3 separate regions of the Homo sapiens genome follow, and all the other regions are linked to region 1. The links come from fine-mapping of genetic effects on gene expression. A gene starts in region 1. Each other region holds a variant in brackets. All regions are shown on one strand. Distances are between the middles of the regions. Region 1 holds the start of TUBGCP2 (tubulin gamma complex component 2). Region 2 overlaps KNDC1 (kinase non-catalytic C-lobe domain containing 1). Region 3 overlaps ECHS1 (enoyl-CoA hydratase, short chain 1).

Evidence for each region. PIP is the estimated chance that this variant, and not a neighbour inherited with it, causes the effect.
Region 2: its variant is the best candidate, but not a certain one, in a credible set for the expression of TUBGCP2 in whole blood (TOPMed, PIP 0.83).
Region 3: its variant is the best candidate, but not a certain one, in a credible set for the expression of TUBGCP2 in fibroblasts (GTEx, PIP 0.55).

The regions. Positions count from the first base shown.
Region 1 is chr10:133,306,434-133,311,651 of GRCh38, forward strand. It overlaps TUBGCP2 (tubulin gamma complex component 2), which reads right to left and starts at 2,439. Exons shown (of 18, transcript NM_006659.4): 1 at 2,390-2,439. It overlaps ZNF511-PRAP1 (ZNF511-PRAP1 readthrough), which reads left to right and starts at 2,481. Exons shown (of 9, transcript NM_001396060.1): 1 at 2,481-2,663; 2 at 2,957-3,030; 3 at 3,343-3,544; 4 at 3,731-3,855. The coding sequence starts at 2,511. ZNF511 (zinc finger protein 511) reads left to right here and starts at 2,481. Exons shown (of 6, transcript NM_145806.4): 1 at 2,481-2,663; 2 at 2,957-3,030; 3 at 3,343-3,544; 4 at 3,731-3,855. The coding sequence starts at 2,511. RefSeq lists enhancers at 1,616-1,845, 2,569-3,264, 2,672-2,966 and a silencer at 2,076-2,925.
Region 2 is chr10:133,161,902-133,167,119 of GRCh38, forward strand. All of the region lies in intron 1 of KNDC1 (kinase non-catalytic C-lobe domain containing 1), which reads left to right. Among named protein-coding and RNA genes, the nearest start is that of KNDC1, 4.3 kb to the left of the region's middle. RefSeq lists an enhancer at 3,646-4,157. The variant C/G (reference allele first, on the strand shown) is at 2,815.
Region 3 is chr10:133,363,320-133,368,537 of GRCh38, forward strand. ECHS1 (enoyl-CoA hydratase, short chain 1) reads right to left here. Exons shown (of 8, transcript NM_004092.4): 5 at 3,570-3,674; 6 at 2,657-2,776; 7 at 1,339-1,406. Among named protein-coding and RNA genes, the nearest start is that of MIR3944, 5.7 kb to the right of the region's middle. The variant G/A (reference allele first, on the strand shown) is at 2,290.

The DNA of each region.
Region 1 (5,218 bases):
CCACCAGACACAAGTCAGGAGAGAAAGCTACCTATGAAGAAAAATCATCTGAGTATTTATTTAAAAACTACATGCTGGGCACGGTGGCTCACGCCTGTAATCTCAGCACTTTGGGAAGCCAAGGTGGGCGGATCATGAGGTCAGGAGATCGAGACCATCCTGGCTAACATGGTGAAACCCCATCTCTACTAAAAATACAAAAAAATTAGCCGGGGGTGGTGGCGGGCGCTTGTAGTCGCAGATACTCCAGAGGCTGGGGCAGGAGAATGGCATGAACCCGAGAGGCGGAGCTTGCAGTGAGCCAAGATCACACCACTGCATTCCAGCCTGGGCAACAGAGCGAGACTCTGTCTCAAAAAATAATAATAAAAAAAATAAAAACTACCTTCAGGAAACTTCGTATCTCTTCTAGAAATAGAAGCACAGATGCCCGCACGTCATGAGTGTTCATCCCATGAGGAGCCTGCTGCTCTCCCTGAATGTGGGGACCGGGCCTCCAAGAGGGCAGCCCGTACTCGCACAGAGTCCCTCCCCCCAGAAGACCTTTGGAAAAGTCCTAGGGCAACTCTGGGGTGTCACGGTCATGGAAGGGTGCTCTCGCTACTTAGAGGGCAAGGGCGGGGGATGCTAATCATCAACAGAGCTGTCCCGCCAGAAATGCACAGCGTCCCACTGAAAACACAGCTCTGAGGAACATCTAGCCGTGGCTGCTTCTTGGAGGAACGTCTAGCCATGGCCGCTGACTTGGCCTTCTTGATGCTCCTGAATTCTTACTATTAATCACACAAACTGACAGGCCCAGCAACTGTGACTGGGAGGGACTGACGTCCTCCTCACAGAGGCTGTGAGCTACCGCAGGGACGCGTGCTGAGGGAAGCAATGCACGCATGTCACACTCCACCACGGACAAGCGGGGCACACACTCCTAGTGAGCACACACTCCAAGTGATTAAAACACAGAGGGACGTGAAAAAGAGTCTCTGTTGAGAGCTCAAAGCTAACTGTACAAATTGGTTTGAAAAATGTTATTTTACAACTTGTGGAAAATGTCAAGAGCCCAAAGGCTTTTACAGAGACAGAAAGTACAGTCATGCATCACTCAACATTCTGAGAAATGCCTGGCCAACATGGTGAAAACCAGTCTCTACCAAAAATACAAAAATTGGCCAAGCCTGGTGGCGCACACTTGTAATCCCAGCTACTTGGGAAGCTGAGGCACGAGAATCGCTTGAACCCAGCAGGCAGAGGTTGCAGTGAGCCCAGATCGCGCCACTGCACTCCAGCCTGAGCGACAGAGAGAGACACTATCTCCAAAAGAAAAAAAGAGAAACGTATGGTTACATGATTTCCTTCTGTGCGATCATCAGAGTCACTCGCAGACCTGGATGGTGTACGGCCTACAATGCACCTAAACCACCTAGAGGAGCCTCTTGCTCGTGGGCTACAAACCTGCCCAGCAGGTGGCGGTGCTGAACACTAGACAACTGTAACACAGAGATATTTGTGTATCTAAACATGGAAAAAGTACAGGGGCAGGCATGGTGGCTCACGCCTGCAGTTACAGCTCTTTGGAACGCTGAGGCAGCAGGACCACTTGAGCCCAAGAATTTGAGGCCGCAGCGATCTATCAGCTATGATCGCACCATTGCACTCCAGCCTGGGTGACAGACGAGAAAGCTAAAGCCTCTATCCGCCACTGGGCCCATTCTCTGCAGTAGATCTGAAGCGTCCACTGCTTCCCGCGTGTGTTGTCATTCACCATTTTAATTAGGTGACTCTTTACTCTGACGTCTGTCTCTCCTACAAGGCTGCCGCGCCCTCCTGTGATGCCTTCCCCCACACGCCCTGAGCACCTAGCACAGGTCCTGTGTTTCACGGGAGCTGCGGGGACTGGAGAGGTCGACAGGACCCCGACAAACCAGGAAAGGGCCTTTGAACTAAAGTAACGGGAAGTCACCCAAGGGCTTTAAATTAAAAACGGTTACAATAAAACTGGAGTCACTTTGGCTCCAGTTCGCGACTGGTTTAGAGGGAACAAGATCCAGGGACTGCAGCGGGAGACGACAGGCGGGGCAAGGCGGACGGGAGAGGGCGTGCGAGAGGGGGACCTGCGACCCGGCTTCCCAGGGCTGGGAGGGGACACCCGGGACGACCCGGAGGCCCGCTCCGCCCCGCCCCGGCTGAGTGTCGGGCCGCGGGGCAAGACGCTGGCCTGGCCGGTGCAGGCCCGAAGGGCTTCGGCCCCAGAGTTCGGGGACCGCTGCACAGCCAGAGGGAGCGCGCGGGAAGAGCCGCGTCCCGCCAGCCCCGTCGCCTCGTGGGCCCCCCCGGGCCTGGCAGTCCCCCAACCCCCTCATCACGCCCGCGCCCGCGTTCGGCCAGGACTCACCGCAGTCCCGGAGCCACAGCCCCCGCGCAGCCCCCGACGGCGGCGGAAGTGAGCGTGACGTCACGTCCGGCTCGGCTCGCGGACGGTGGCCGACAGGCTGCGCCCGCCCGCGCCCGGGGTGATGCAGTTGCCCCCCGCGCTGTGCGCCCGCCTCGCTGCGGGGCCCGGGGCGGCGGAGCCGCTGCCTGTAGAGCGGGATCCCGCGGCTGGGGCCGCGCCCTTTCGCTTCGTTGCGCGCCCCGTGCGCTTCCCGCGGGAGCACCAGTTCTTCGAGGTGCGTGAGCAAAAGAGGGAAAAAGTAGTTGTAGGATCCAGTGGGGCCTACGGCGGCGAGGCGGGGCCGGAGCCTGGAGTGGGAGGGGCCTACGACTGCGGGGCGGGGCCGGAGCCTGGGACAGGCGGGACCTGAGGTGGTGGGGCGGGGCCGGAACGTGGAGTGGGCGGGGCCTGAGGCTGTGGGGCGGGACCGGAGCGCGGGATGACTGGGGCCACGGGTGTGGGCGAGGCCTGACGCGGTGGGCGTGCCGCGAGTCACCTGGCCCCGCCCACGGCGCACTTTTCCTGCAGGATGGGGACGTGCAGCGCCACCTCTACCTCCAGGACGTGATCATGCAGGTGGCCGACGTGCCTGAGAAGCCCAGGTAAGCGAATGGGCAGTGCCTAGCCAGTGCTACTCCTGCGCCGCCTCCCTGACCGGTGCCTGGTCCCTGGGGCTGTGCTGCCGCTCTTCCATGTGCGGCCGCCCCACCGAGGCGCTGTGCCTGTCCAGCTTTGGCGTGGCCGACTCTTCCACCACCTAGCCTGTTTGTGAAACTTAATTCATAAAAAGAGGGTTTGGGATTGCAAAAGATGCATAGGGGCTTTATTGGACGTCTCAAAGGGAAACTGTGCAGAAAGTCCAGCTTGGTTCCTCGCACCGGAGGAAGGGCTCCTGAAGCACGTCTCCTTGGCAGGGTGCCCGCGTTTGCCTGCCAGGTGGCCGGCTGCTGCCAGGTGTTCGATGCCCTGGACGACTACGAGCACCACTACCACACGCTGCACGGAAATGTTTGCTCCTTTTGCAAGCGGGCCTTCCCTTCCGGACACCTGCTGGACGCCCACATCCTGGAGTGGCACGATTCGCTCTTCCAGATCCTGTCTGAGAGGCAGGACATGGTGGGTGACAACTGCACAGCCGCCGAGGCCACCCCCCATTGGTGATGGGCTCAGAGTGCTGCCCCCAGCTCTCGGGTGCTCGGGCAAGGCCGGGGACACCTTTCCGCCCTTGGCAGCTCTGCTACGGGGGCATGGCGGTGGGGGAGGGCCAGGGGTCAGAGGGAGGTGACACGGTCTCCATTTCAGTATCAGTGCTTGGTAGAAGGCTGCACAGAGAAGTTCAAGACCAGCAGAGACCGGAAGGATCACATGGTGAGGATGCACCTGTACCCCGCGGACTTCCGGTTTGATAAGCCAAAGAAAAGCAGAAGGTAGGGAGCCGCCAGGCTCAGCACGTGTCTGCTTTTGATTTTAGGAAAAGGTTTCCAACTAGCCGGAATGCATAGACGGTCAGACTTATTAAGCACTTGTGTGTCACCTAATGGGGTGTTCACCTGCAGGTACCTGAAGCCCTGGCAACACAGCTACAGGTGGTTGTGCCAGCGGCCACCCTGCCGAAGGGAGGCTGGAGGGGAGCCCCTGGCTGCCCAGCTCTGTGCCGGTGGAGGCAGCAGAGGGGGTGTGGGAATGAGCGGGCGCAGCGCCTCCGCACTCACACCCCTCTGGGCCATGCCTGTACCTCCTGCAGCAGTCGGCCGTGGTCATCCGCACTCACACCCCTCGGGGCCGTGTCTGTACCTCCTGCAGCCGTCGGCCGTGCTCACACATCATGCAGCCCTGGCTTTCCTTTTGTCCTGGTTGGTTGTGCGCATATGAACTTGATGACAAAGCTGTTGATTAACATGTTCCTGCCTAGAGTGCACTCTGGGAAATACTTCCAGGAACAATCTTTTTTTTTTTTTGAGACAGGGTCTTGCTCTGACACCCAGGCTGGAGTGTAGTGGTGTGATGTAGGTTCACTGCAACCTCCACTTCTCAGGCTCAAGCGATTCTCCCACTTCAGCCTCCTAAAGTGCTAGGACTACCAACACGCATCGCCGCACTCGGCAAAATTTTCTATTTTTTGTAGAGACAGGGTCTTGCTATGTTGCCCAGTCTGGTCGTGAACTCCTGGGCTCAAGCCGTCCATCTGCCTCAGCCTCCCAAAGTGCTGAGATTGTAGGTATGAGCTACCATGTCCAGCCGGAACAATTTTTAAATTGTGTTATATTTCTTCTTTTTTTAACTGATGAGGTGAACTTTCATAATCATCTACAATTTTATTGATCAGAGTTTTTCAGACTCTACATTTTCTCAAGTAGTAATTTGCTCTTTAAAATAAAAGAACTGGGAGAACCCACTGCAATGTGGGAGGCTTTACAAAGACTTACGTGTAAAGTAATTGTCTCCTTTCCGAGGGATCATTTTAAGGAGAAAAACCGTGCAATGCTGGATTAAGACATTCGTATTATGGAAGAGACTAGTTTATAGTCTCTGGTTAACTTTAGCAAATTTCTCACACTCATAAAAAGACCCGTGGCACCGTTGGCACCATAAAAATACTATTTTCAAAAAAAAGTATGATTGTTACAGTTAAGTTTATAAGATGCAGACTCTATTATATAAACAATGGCCTTGCTGTAATCATTCTCCTTTTCCCAGTATCTTAAACCACACTATAAAATCAGACTATGCCAAAATAGTAAGAAAATATGCTACTTACAGGGAAATCCAGTTTCTTTCTTGCATGTTCAT
Region 2 (5,218 bases), 140 kb before region 1:
GCCACGCACACAACACGCCGCGCCAGGCGCGAGCCCACTTGGAGCCACAGGCTGTCTTTCTGCACACTCCCCACTCCCGCTCCCCACCCCCACGCACACACCAGTGTCCTCGGGCCGGCCGGACAGCTCCCGGCCGGCACAGTACTGGGGTGGGTGGCTCCATCCTGTGACGTCCACCAAGGCCTCCAGGTGAACTGTCATCCCACCGAGTTTGCAGCGTGCAGTGGGAACGTTCAGGTGGGCCCTTCGCAGACACTCCTGGAAAGCATCGGGTGGTCCCTGGCCCAACCCTGTGCCCAGTACTGAGCCCAACACACCCCATGTCTCAGAATTCCCCTGGCGTTCAGACTCTGCTTCCCACACGTGTTTGGCTTGGAAGGTTCTGAAATCTCCATCGGGGCACCTGACTTGCATGGGAAAACCGTCCTGGGTGAGGTGAGGGCACGGTGAGGTTGCATCATCATCCCAGAATGCCGGAAGGCCAAGGGTGCAGGGCAGCTGCCGGGAAAGCACGGTGGCGCCAGGCCCAGGACATATGCAGGCTTCATAAGATGTAGGAACTCACTCATTCTACAGCTAATTATAATGGCTGGCTCCATGATGGGGTCAAGAAATAGACCCCTATGGACACCCACCGGAGCCCCTGGAATGTCCCTCCCTTGACATGGTCCCAAAGAAAATCCAAATGGCTGCTGAACATGTGAAAAGATGTTTGCTCATTGCAATCAGGAAAATGCAAAATACACCCCCACGAATGCCTTCCCAAGACCGCCAGGCTGGCAAGAACTGAAGAGCGGACAGCGGCTTGTGCTGGCAAGGACGGCGCAGCAGCTCTCCCTCGCGCCAGTGGGAGGACAAATGGAGCAGCCTCTTTGGAAAACAGCCCAGCATTCGCTGGTGAAGTAGAAGGCACCAGTGCCCTGTGTCCCAGCAACTTCACTATGGTGTGGGCCCCAGAGACACGTGGCCGTGCGTGTGTGAGAACACTCTCAGCTGGAACCTACCAGAGCATCAGCAAGTGGGCCAGCAGGTCCTGGAGGAAGTGACCAGGTTGGATCCCAGTACAGGCAAAGAACCACCAGTACACGATAGACAGGGAGATGTTCTGTGGGGGTGATGCAAGGAGGGCTTCCTGGAGGTGTCCTGCCCGGGATTCCCATGAGATTTCAGTCACTGTGGATGGGGGTATGGGATCTGAGGCAGAACAGTGCAATCCAGGCAGAACAGCGGCTGCAGAAGAGGCACACAGTCCAGGCGGCTGGAGTCGATGGATGGGCAATGCTGGCTGCCCCATGGGAATTCAGATGAGACGAAGAGGGTGCACCGGTTTGGGTGCCAGAGCAGGACGTGTCCCGGGTCCCTGAGAGGCAGGCAGCACTATCATCCCTCCCAGAGTTCAGCAACTGCCTCCCAGAACCTCCTGTGTGCCGGTGTCAGGCTGGGCTCAGAATCTGAGGCTGGACAGGATGCAGTTGCTCCCTGGAGGGGCACACAGCTGGGGGCTCCCAGTAAAGAAGAGGACGTCCCCGCTGCAGGGTCCATATGACATCTGTGCCAGGATGAGCTCAGAGCAGAAGGCACCTCGGGAGCAGAGGTGGTTTTGTGGTGGGGGCCTGGCAGTGTGAAGAGAGCTGTCAGGAGGCCTGGGGATTGGCAGCCAGTGCTCCCAGCTGTGATTGGAGTTTTGTATTAGTCCTGTTAGAATCCCACGGCTGAAAAAAATCAGTTGGTCATAAGACAGTGTATTTCAAATGCGCCACACGATCTAGGCGTCCCTGTGTAACCCTGGCTCGAAGTCTGCCTGGCAGTGTGGCGGGGGGTGTGGGAGCTTTCTGAATGCACAGGGCCCCTAATGGGGACCTGCCATGAGATAAGGGTCCTCGGTGGGAAGCGTGCCCTGCCCTCTGAGACCCAGGGACTGGCTGATGTGCTGCTGCCCTGGAGAGCAGCCCAGTCCCGGGGGTTCATGTCCACCTGCCTTCCCAAATCCCTCCTCCCACCTGGGATGGGGGTGGAGTTCGTGGCCACCTGCCTTCCCAAATCCCTCCTCCCACCTGGGATGGGGGTGGAGTTCGTGGCCACCTGCCTTCCCAAATCCCTCCTCCCACGTGGGATGGGGGTGGAGTTCATGTCCACCTGCCTTCCCAAATCCCTCCTCCCACCTGGGATGGGGGTGGAGTTCATGTCCACCTGCCTTCCCGAATCCCTCCTCCCACCTGGGTTGGGGGTGGAGTTCGTGGCCACACAATTGCAAAGTGGGGACCAGTCTTTCCTGTCCTGCAAGGAACAGGTCTTAGGTGGTCCCTGCTCTCAGACCTACCCCATGGCTCACCCAGGCACGCCCTGCTAGGGATGGTAAGGGGCAGGGTGGGTGGTCGGTGGGCTGGACTAGGTCATGAAGAACCCTCTGGGCCTGCTCAAGAGGCTGGGTCTGTGCCGGCAGACGGAGTCACTGAAAGCTGGCCAGCCACAACAAGGTCAGACTGTATTGGCAGGGGCAGGAGAGGCTGAAGTGTGGAAAGTCACGAGGCCCCAGCCTGCCGTGGGGCCCTCGTGGGTGCTGGGCAGACAGGTGCGCAGGAGGCGGCGCTGGGCAGACAGACAGGCGTCGGCCAGCTGAGGCCGGCGTTGCTATTCACAGCACGTCACCTCCTTCCCAAGTGTCTGCCACAGCCCATTAAACTCCTGTCGAGGCCACCTCGGCAGCCCCGCAGCCCGGCTGGGCGTATTTTACTTGAGCACGAAGCTTCCTGGCCCAGCTGTGGACTTGAACCTACCTGGTAGCAAGGCTGAGAGCCCCGGGGTCTCCAAGGG[C/G]CCCTTCTGGAGGTGACTACAGGACGCCCACAGCTCAGGACTACAGGACGCCCAGATAGCTCCCGACCTTGAGGGTGGTCGTGGGGTTGTCTGCTGGGATGTGGCGGGGGGAGCCCAAGGACGTGGGATCCCCAGGCTGCTGAGTGCTGCCTGTGTCTCTCCCAGTCCTCTCGTCCTGTCCTGGCCTCTTAGGCCTGTCTGACCCCCCCTTGCTCACCCAGCCAGTGTGGATTCGGGCAAGGAGGGCTAATTCCTCTCACCTGTGCCAGAGCAGGGTGGAGGCTGCAGGTCCCAGAGGGCAGGTGACCCGGGGCCCAGAGTTCAGGCCTGGGAGCCCTCAGCACATGACAAGACCCCCTGGGTGGCCGGGCTCAGGACCCTGTGTGAGCGGAAGCCCACCCTCTGGAAAGCCCCAGAGAGGCTGAGACCATCCTATCCCTGAGGGGAGGCTTCAGCCACAGACCCCATGGAATTCACCGCTAAAGTCATCCAGAGAATCTCCGACGGAATTCAGACACGCCCACCTCTCATGGGTGCTGGGGCTCCAGGTGTCCGGCTTCCCTGAGGGGAGGAGGGGGCTGCCCATCACCAGGCATCTCCCCTCCAGGTCTGAGCAGGAGGGCGTGCTGTGTGCGAGTGGTGGCCCTGCTGGCACGGCTGACCTGGGCTCCCTTCCCGGGTCCACGTGTCTCGACACCATTCTGTGGGCTGGCGGCAGGCGCCTGACCTGTGAGTGACAGCCAGAGGCACCCCAGGGCCCCGCAGGGGGACGGGGACCGGCTGAGACGCGCCTCATGCTGACTCCCTTCCTCCTAAGCAGCACAACCTACGGGGTCCTCAGACTGACTTACCGCTTGGTGCACGTCTGTGCCCGTGTTTGCAGGCACGTGTGCGTGGGCATGTTGCGCTGTGTGCATGTGTGTGCCAGTGCACGGGAGTGTGTACATATGTGTGCGCCTGCGTGTGCAGGTGCATGGGTGTGTGCATGTGTTTGTGTGTACGCAGTGCCCAGGTACCTCTTTAACCAGCCTCACAGGCGTCGCTGGGAGCTTCGGGCTCTCTGGAGTCCTGAGGAGTCCTGGGCGGTGCTAAGAGGGCGGCAGGCTTGAGCCCAAATCAAACACCTTTGATCGATCACGGGCCACAGGAATGGGGCAGGGAGATTCCCGCCATAGAAAGAGCTGGAAGGGCCTGGGAAATGATGTCATCAAGCCCCTCCCTGGACCGCAAGAAGGAGATGGACGGGATGTGCCAGGACCCCACGAACAGACGCAGAGCCAGCCCCATGGCCAGGCCCCACCGGGCGCCCATGCCCTGATCCCGTCGTTTGTTGGCCTCCTGCTTTGGTTTGAGCCCTTCATCCCTTTCCTGTGCCTGGGGGGCCTCTTGCAGTGCCAGCCGCTGGGGCAGGGTAGGGGGACCGGAGGCAGGAGGTGCCTCTCAGGACATCAGCCCAGTGGCTCCAGTACAGCCAGAGCCGCCCTGTGCACTGGGGGAGGGGGGGCCAGCGATGGGGGAGAAGGGGCCTCTGCCTCCTCCTCACGGGCCCCACCCATAGTGTCCAGGCTGCAGCCCCCGGCCACCCCCTCCTACCTGCACATGGGGTGCCCCGGCCGGGGAGCAGCACACCCAAGAGGGCCTTCAGCTCCATACTCGGGTGCGTGCGAGTGTGGATTGTGCAGCCTTGTGTGTTCCTGTGAGGGTGTGTGCACCAAGTGTGGGAATGGGTGTGTGCGGGTGTGCATGTCTGTGCGTGCATATGGTCAGTGTTAGGCATGTGTGCGGTGGCATGTAGTATGTGTGTGAGTGTGAGGTGTGTGTGTGTATGAGGATGTCTGTTCTCATTGCATGAGTGTGTGTGTGTGAAGCGGATGGAACTGTGAGTGTGCACACACCTTGCACCAGCGTCCGAGTGTTACTGTGTGAGCGTGCCCTGTGTTGGCGTGTGTCCATGTGGGATGCATGTATGGGGATGCGTGTGTCTGTGTGAGGGTGAGCACGTGTGCTAGGTGGGTATGTTTGTGCATGTGCATGGGGGGGGTGTGGGTGTTGGTGGCAACCATCGTGATCACAGCTGAGCCCTCGCGGAGTCCAGGAGCCCACTCGGATTTGGAGGTGAGCCCACATGGGGGCGGCCGAGCCACATGGAGGGAACCGCCGTGACTGTGTCCTCCGTGTGAATTGCCTGGAACAAATGTTGGCAGCGCGTGTGGTTGTAAGTCATGTGAGTGTCAGGATCACGCCCCGTTAGCTCTGCACGAGTCCACAGTTGGGGATGTCCACTCCGTCGCCTCGCTCATCTGTTGGCAGCCTCCACAGGCCAGTCCAGCCGTGAGCCTGCGGGGTCGGGGTGCTCCACGGAGCAGGTGACCCAGCAGCTCTGGCCGAGCCTCCGGGAGGAAGG
Region 3 (5,218 bases), 57 kb after region 1:
ACTGTGTGCACGTGTGTCCCCAGGTGTGCGCGCGCGCACACACACACACACACACACACACACACGCATCTGTACCCCTTCCTCAGGTGCCCAAACCACTTTTAATTTTTATTTTATAGAACAATTAAAACACCGAAGTATGACTTTCTCCCAGTGAAAGACATGAATTAAAATGGTAATCTGGCCGGGTGCAGTGGCTCACGCCTATAATCCCAGCACTGTGGGAGGCCGAGGCAGGCAGATCACTTGAGGTCAGGAGTTCAAGACCAGCCTGGCCAACATGGTGAAACTCTGTCTCTACTAAAAATACAAAAATTAGCCAGGTGTGGTGGTGGGCACCTGTAATCCCAGCTACTCGGGAGGCTGAAGCAGGAGAATCACTTGAACCCAGGAGGTGGAGGTTGCAGTGAGCTGAGATCTCACCACTGCATTCCAGCCTGGACGACCGAGCAAGACTCTGCCTCAAAGGGAAGAAAATTAAAATTATGATGGTAATTAGAGGAATTACTTTAAGTTACTGGCAGAAATCTTATAAAATATTGCTCTAAAGCTTCAGCTTATCTTATTAGAATACATTTGAGCCTATTCCAAATAATTGGAATGATCTAAAAAAACATGGGTAAAATGAGTTACATTTTTTTTTTCAGACAGAGTCTCACTCTGTCTCCCAGGCTGGAGTGCAGTGGCGTGATCTCGGCTCACTGTAATCTCCGCCTCTGGGTTCAAGCGATTCTCCTGCCTCAACTTCCAGAGTAGCTGGGATTACAGGCACCTGCCACCACGCCCGGCTAATTTTTTGGATTTTTAGTAGAGACGGGTTTCGTCATGTTGCCCAGGCTGGTTTCAAACTCCTGAGCTCAGGCAATCCACCCGCCTCAGCCTCCCAAAGTGCTGGGATTACAGGGTGAGCCACCGCGCCCGGCCTCATTTTTTAAAAAAGTCTTTTTTTTGAGACGGGGTCTTGCTTTGCTGCCCAGTTGGACTCGAACGACCCGCCTCAGCCTCCCAGGAAGCTGGGGCTACGGATGCTCGACACCCACCCGGCTGAAACTGCATTTTCAATAAAGGAGCTGCTTGAGGGTGCAATTCACAGACCTCACATAACAGGAAAAACAAGAAAAGCCCCTGTAAGGTTTCTGTACTTTTGAACTTGTACATGCTCTACTTTTTTCCTAACATCAAGACCCACTGATGGAACCAATCTGATCCCGTTAAAGGTGAGGCTGGCAGTTCTGACCAGAAAGAAACGATACTTAATGATAAAATTTAAAAGGAAATTCCCAGCAACTTGTGTGACTGGAATTTGCTTGATTCTCCGGTTGAACACTGTTTACTCACAGTGGCAAAGGTTGAATAAAAGAGTTTCTTCTCCAACTTACTTCCTTCTGTTAATGTCATTTCAAAAGCTGAAAAACAAAGTCCCAGAGTTATGAACGGAGATATTACATGCAGAACTTTTCCTGCACGGTGACAGGAAGCCCTCCTCACTGACCCATGCACAACTGTGCTTTCGACGTGGCCCAGCCCTGCACAGGCTTCCATGGTGCCGCCCTTCTCAAAGGCACTGCCCCAGCGGAGACCTGGCAGAACCAACAGCTCTGCTATGGCCCCCAAACGTCACACTCCGGTAGCCCACGGCCCCAAGAAGGGAGAGGAACTGGATGAAAGGTGAGATGGCAAACTGTGCCCTTGAGGAGAGGCTGTGAGGCGGCAACGGGGCTGCAAACAGAGAAAAATAACCAAGGATGAAAACCAGGAAGGACAGCACGAGAGCCAGAGCTGGGCGCGGCCGGCACCAAGAACGCCTTTGGCTCTGCTCATTCCAGGCCCGTTCTTTGCACGAGGCCAAGCAGAGCAGATCCAGGTGCGCAGATGGAGGCAGGCGCTGTGGCTCCAGGGCTGGTGCCAGCATCCTCTCCCAGGGGAGCACGACCTTGCCAAACACCTCGGGCGACAGCAGCCTCCGTTCTTTCAAAATGCTCTCCTCACTGTATCCTGCCTCAAGCCAACGGCAAGCCCGGGGGACGGCCACACCCTCGAGATAAATGCACTCAGAGAGGTTAGGGGACCTGCCTGGGGCCACCCACACCTGTCCGGACTCAACCAGCTAATAACCATCTCATTCCACATGCTGAGAATAAATTGTGACATTAAAACTTGAGCATTTCTGAGGAGGGGGAGGTTCAGATCCACTTCCCTGGCAGAGGGAGAACTAAAAGGGATCCAGGCCAAGAACGAACAGCGTGGTGCTGGGCTGCAAGCCTGCGTAGCCACCTGCCAGGCGCACAC[G/A]CAGCCGCCAACCCCAGGTCTCGGGAGGTGAACCGAGCCTCCCCATGGCAGAGACCATTTTACATTTGGGACCTCTGCTCCCTTCTCAGCCTTTCCCTGCCACTGCCAGCTCTGTACTGCCCTCACCTCCCAGGCCTGGCTCAGTTCTTGGGCCCTGGTACAAAGGGGAGCTGGGAACATCTCAGCGGAGTTCCTGAGTGCGTGACCAGAAACCACGACTCTACAGACAGCAGAACTGAGACACTGAGAAGCATTTCTGCCCAGGAGGGCTTAAGGCATATTCATTTGGAGCCAGAAAGCCTGCTGCTGAGGAATGCTCCTGACAGCCACGGAGACCTCTCCAGTGTCTTCCTGGCAGATCCCCTACCTGCATTCACTGATTCTTTGGCCATCGCTACTACAATTTTAGAATTGCTGGCAATTTTTTCTGCACACTGGATGGCTTCTTCCACCAGTGTCTCAACAGGACAAATCTTGCTGACAAGACCTGAAACACAAGAAAGTCAGTGAGTGATGTGCAGAAACAGCACTTGTCTATCCCTTCTCGAGTGAGTGGCCGCTGGGGAGCAGCGTGGCTGGAGCACCCCAGCCTCTGGACGCTAAGCAAGGGCGGCTTCCACACGGGAAGTGCCGCACGTGCCCCTTCCTGAGTGCTGAGTGATCTCGGCACTGCGGTCACTGTGCTCTCAGACATGTGGGCCAGGCTGGCCACAGCTCCGACGGCAGAGGCGGCCAGACACGGGGACTGTGATCACCAACAGGGCAGTGGGAGGACCGGCCACTGAGGCCTGGAGATGCCCATTGCTTACACTGCATTTTGGGGACGCAATTGCTGGGCTGTTATTCTGTACCAGATACTTACGTGTGGTTCACTTCCGTACATACAGTACTTCAAAATGTAGAAACAAAAGGCAGTCAGTCTTCTCCCAGGTCCTCAGGACCCAAAAGCTCATGCAACCACCGTGGGGGCACTTGGATGCTGCCCGGGGTTTCTGTGGGGCTCCCACGAGGGGGACACCTGGATGCCGCCCTGGGTTTCTGTGGGGCTCCCCCATGGGGGACACCTGGATGCAGCTCTGGGTTTCTGTGGGGCTCCCACGAGGGAGACAACTGGATGCAGCTCAGGGTTTCTGTGGGGCACCCATGAGGGGGACACCTGGATGCTGCCCCGGGTTTCTGTGGGGCTCCCCCGAGGGGGACACCTGGATGCCGCCCTGGGTTTCTGTGGGGCTCCCACCCCGGGTTTCCAGGTGGCTCTTGCGGGCAGCCCCAACCCATACCTGCTTGCTTGGCGTCCTGGGCTGAGATCCGGTCACCAGTGAGGACCATCTCCATCGCCAGCGACTTCCCAACAGCACGGGTGAGTCTCTGGGTGCCGCCCGCACCTGCAGGGAGGGGCTGGTCATGGCTGGCACTGTGATGAGTGAACCCAAGAAGACATCACAGCTGTGCAGCCAGCAAATTCCAAGGGGCTTAAGATAGGCCCTGAGACTAGGTCCAGGGGTCAGAGGCCAGGCAGCACAAGAGCCCGGGAACATCAGGGGCAGCAGCCCCTTTTCAAGCTCAGGCCCCACATCTGGTGCTCCCCTGTGGGCAAAGGATTACCTAGGTGCCGAGGCAAGAGACTGAAGGCACAAACTGTTTCGGTATAATAAAGAAAATAGTTAGAATAACAATAGTTATAATACAAATTAGATATAGAGATGATCATGGACATTATCAATCATTAGTATAAACATTATTAATCATTAGCTCTTAATATTACTCTTTGTTGTATTACTAATATAACCAAGAAATAACTGGCGGGTATAGGGTCAGGTGCTGAAGGCACATTGTGAGAAGAGACCTAGAAGGCAAGAGGTGAGCCTTCTGTCACACCTGCATAAGGGCCGCTTGAGGGCTCCTTGGTCAAGCAGTAACGCCAGTGTCTGGGAAGGCAACCATTACTTAGCAGACCATGAAAGGGAGTCTCCTTTCCTTGGAGGAGTCAGGGAACACTGCTCCACCAGCTTCTTGTGAGAGGCTGGATATTCTCCAGGCCTGCCCGCAGTCATCCGGAGGCCTAACCCCCTCCCTGTGGTGCTTCAACGATCACACTCCTTGTCCACTTTCATGCTCCTCCCGTACTCCTGGTTCCTCTTTGAAGTTCGTAGCAGATAGTGGAAGAAGAAAGAGTGAAAGTCTTAAAGTCTTTGATCTTTCTTGTAAGTGCATAGAAGAAAATGCTGACATATGCTGCCTTCCCTCTCTGCTTCGGCTACCTAAGAGGGAAGGGCCCCCTGTCCCATGATCACGTGACTTGCTTCACCTTGTCAATCACTTAGAGGATTCACCGTCCTCACCCTGCCCCCTCGTCCTGTATGCAATAAATATCAGTGCGCCCAGCCATTCGGGGCCACTACCGGTCTCCGCCTCTTGATGGTATTGGTCCCCCAGGCCCAGCTGTTTTCTCTTTATCTCTTTGTCTTGTGTCTTTATTTCTTACAATCTCTCGTCTCCGCACATGGGGAGAACACCTGCTAAGCCCCGTAGGGCTGGACACTACACTCCCCCAACACCCTGACATTAGATCAAGGTGATGACTCTGTAGGGCCCTCCCCAGCCTCTGTGGTCAACATATTAGAAGCTTATAGGCCTCCCTGACCCCAGGCACTGGTCCCTTATAGTAGCAGCTGTTCTAGGGATCAGACCCGAAACAAATGCACCGAGCTCACAGCTCCAGGCCTCAGAATCGGCCTCGTCCAACTCAGAGGGCAGCGAAGGGCACCCTGAGTGCAGCTGCTCCCCTCAGGGTCTCAGCTCCCTCCTGGCTGCTCGGCCTGGGCCCACCCTTCCTACCAGGAGAACCCTGGGGTTAGAGGGTGTTGCTTTTTGCCAAGAGCCCAGGCCCTTCTCACGGGCCTGGGTGGGGGGTCTGACTCCCCACCCT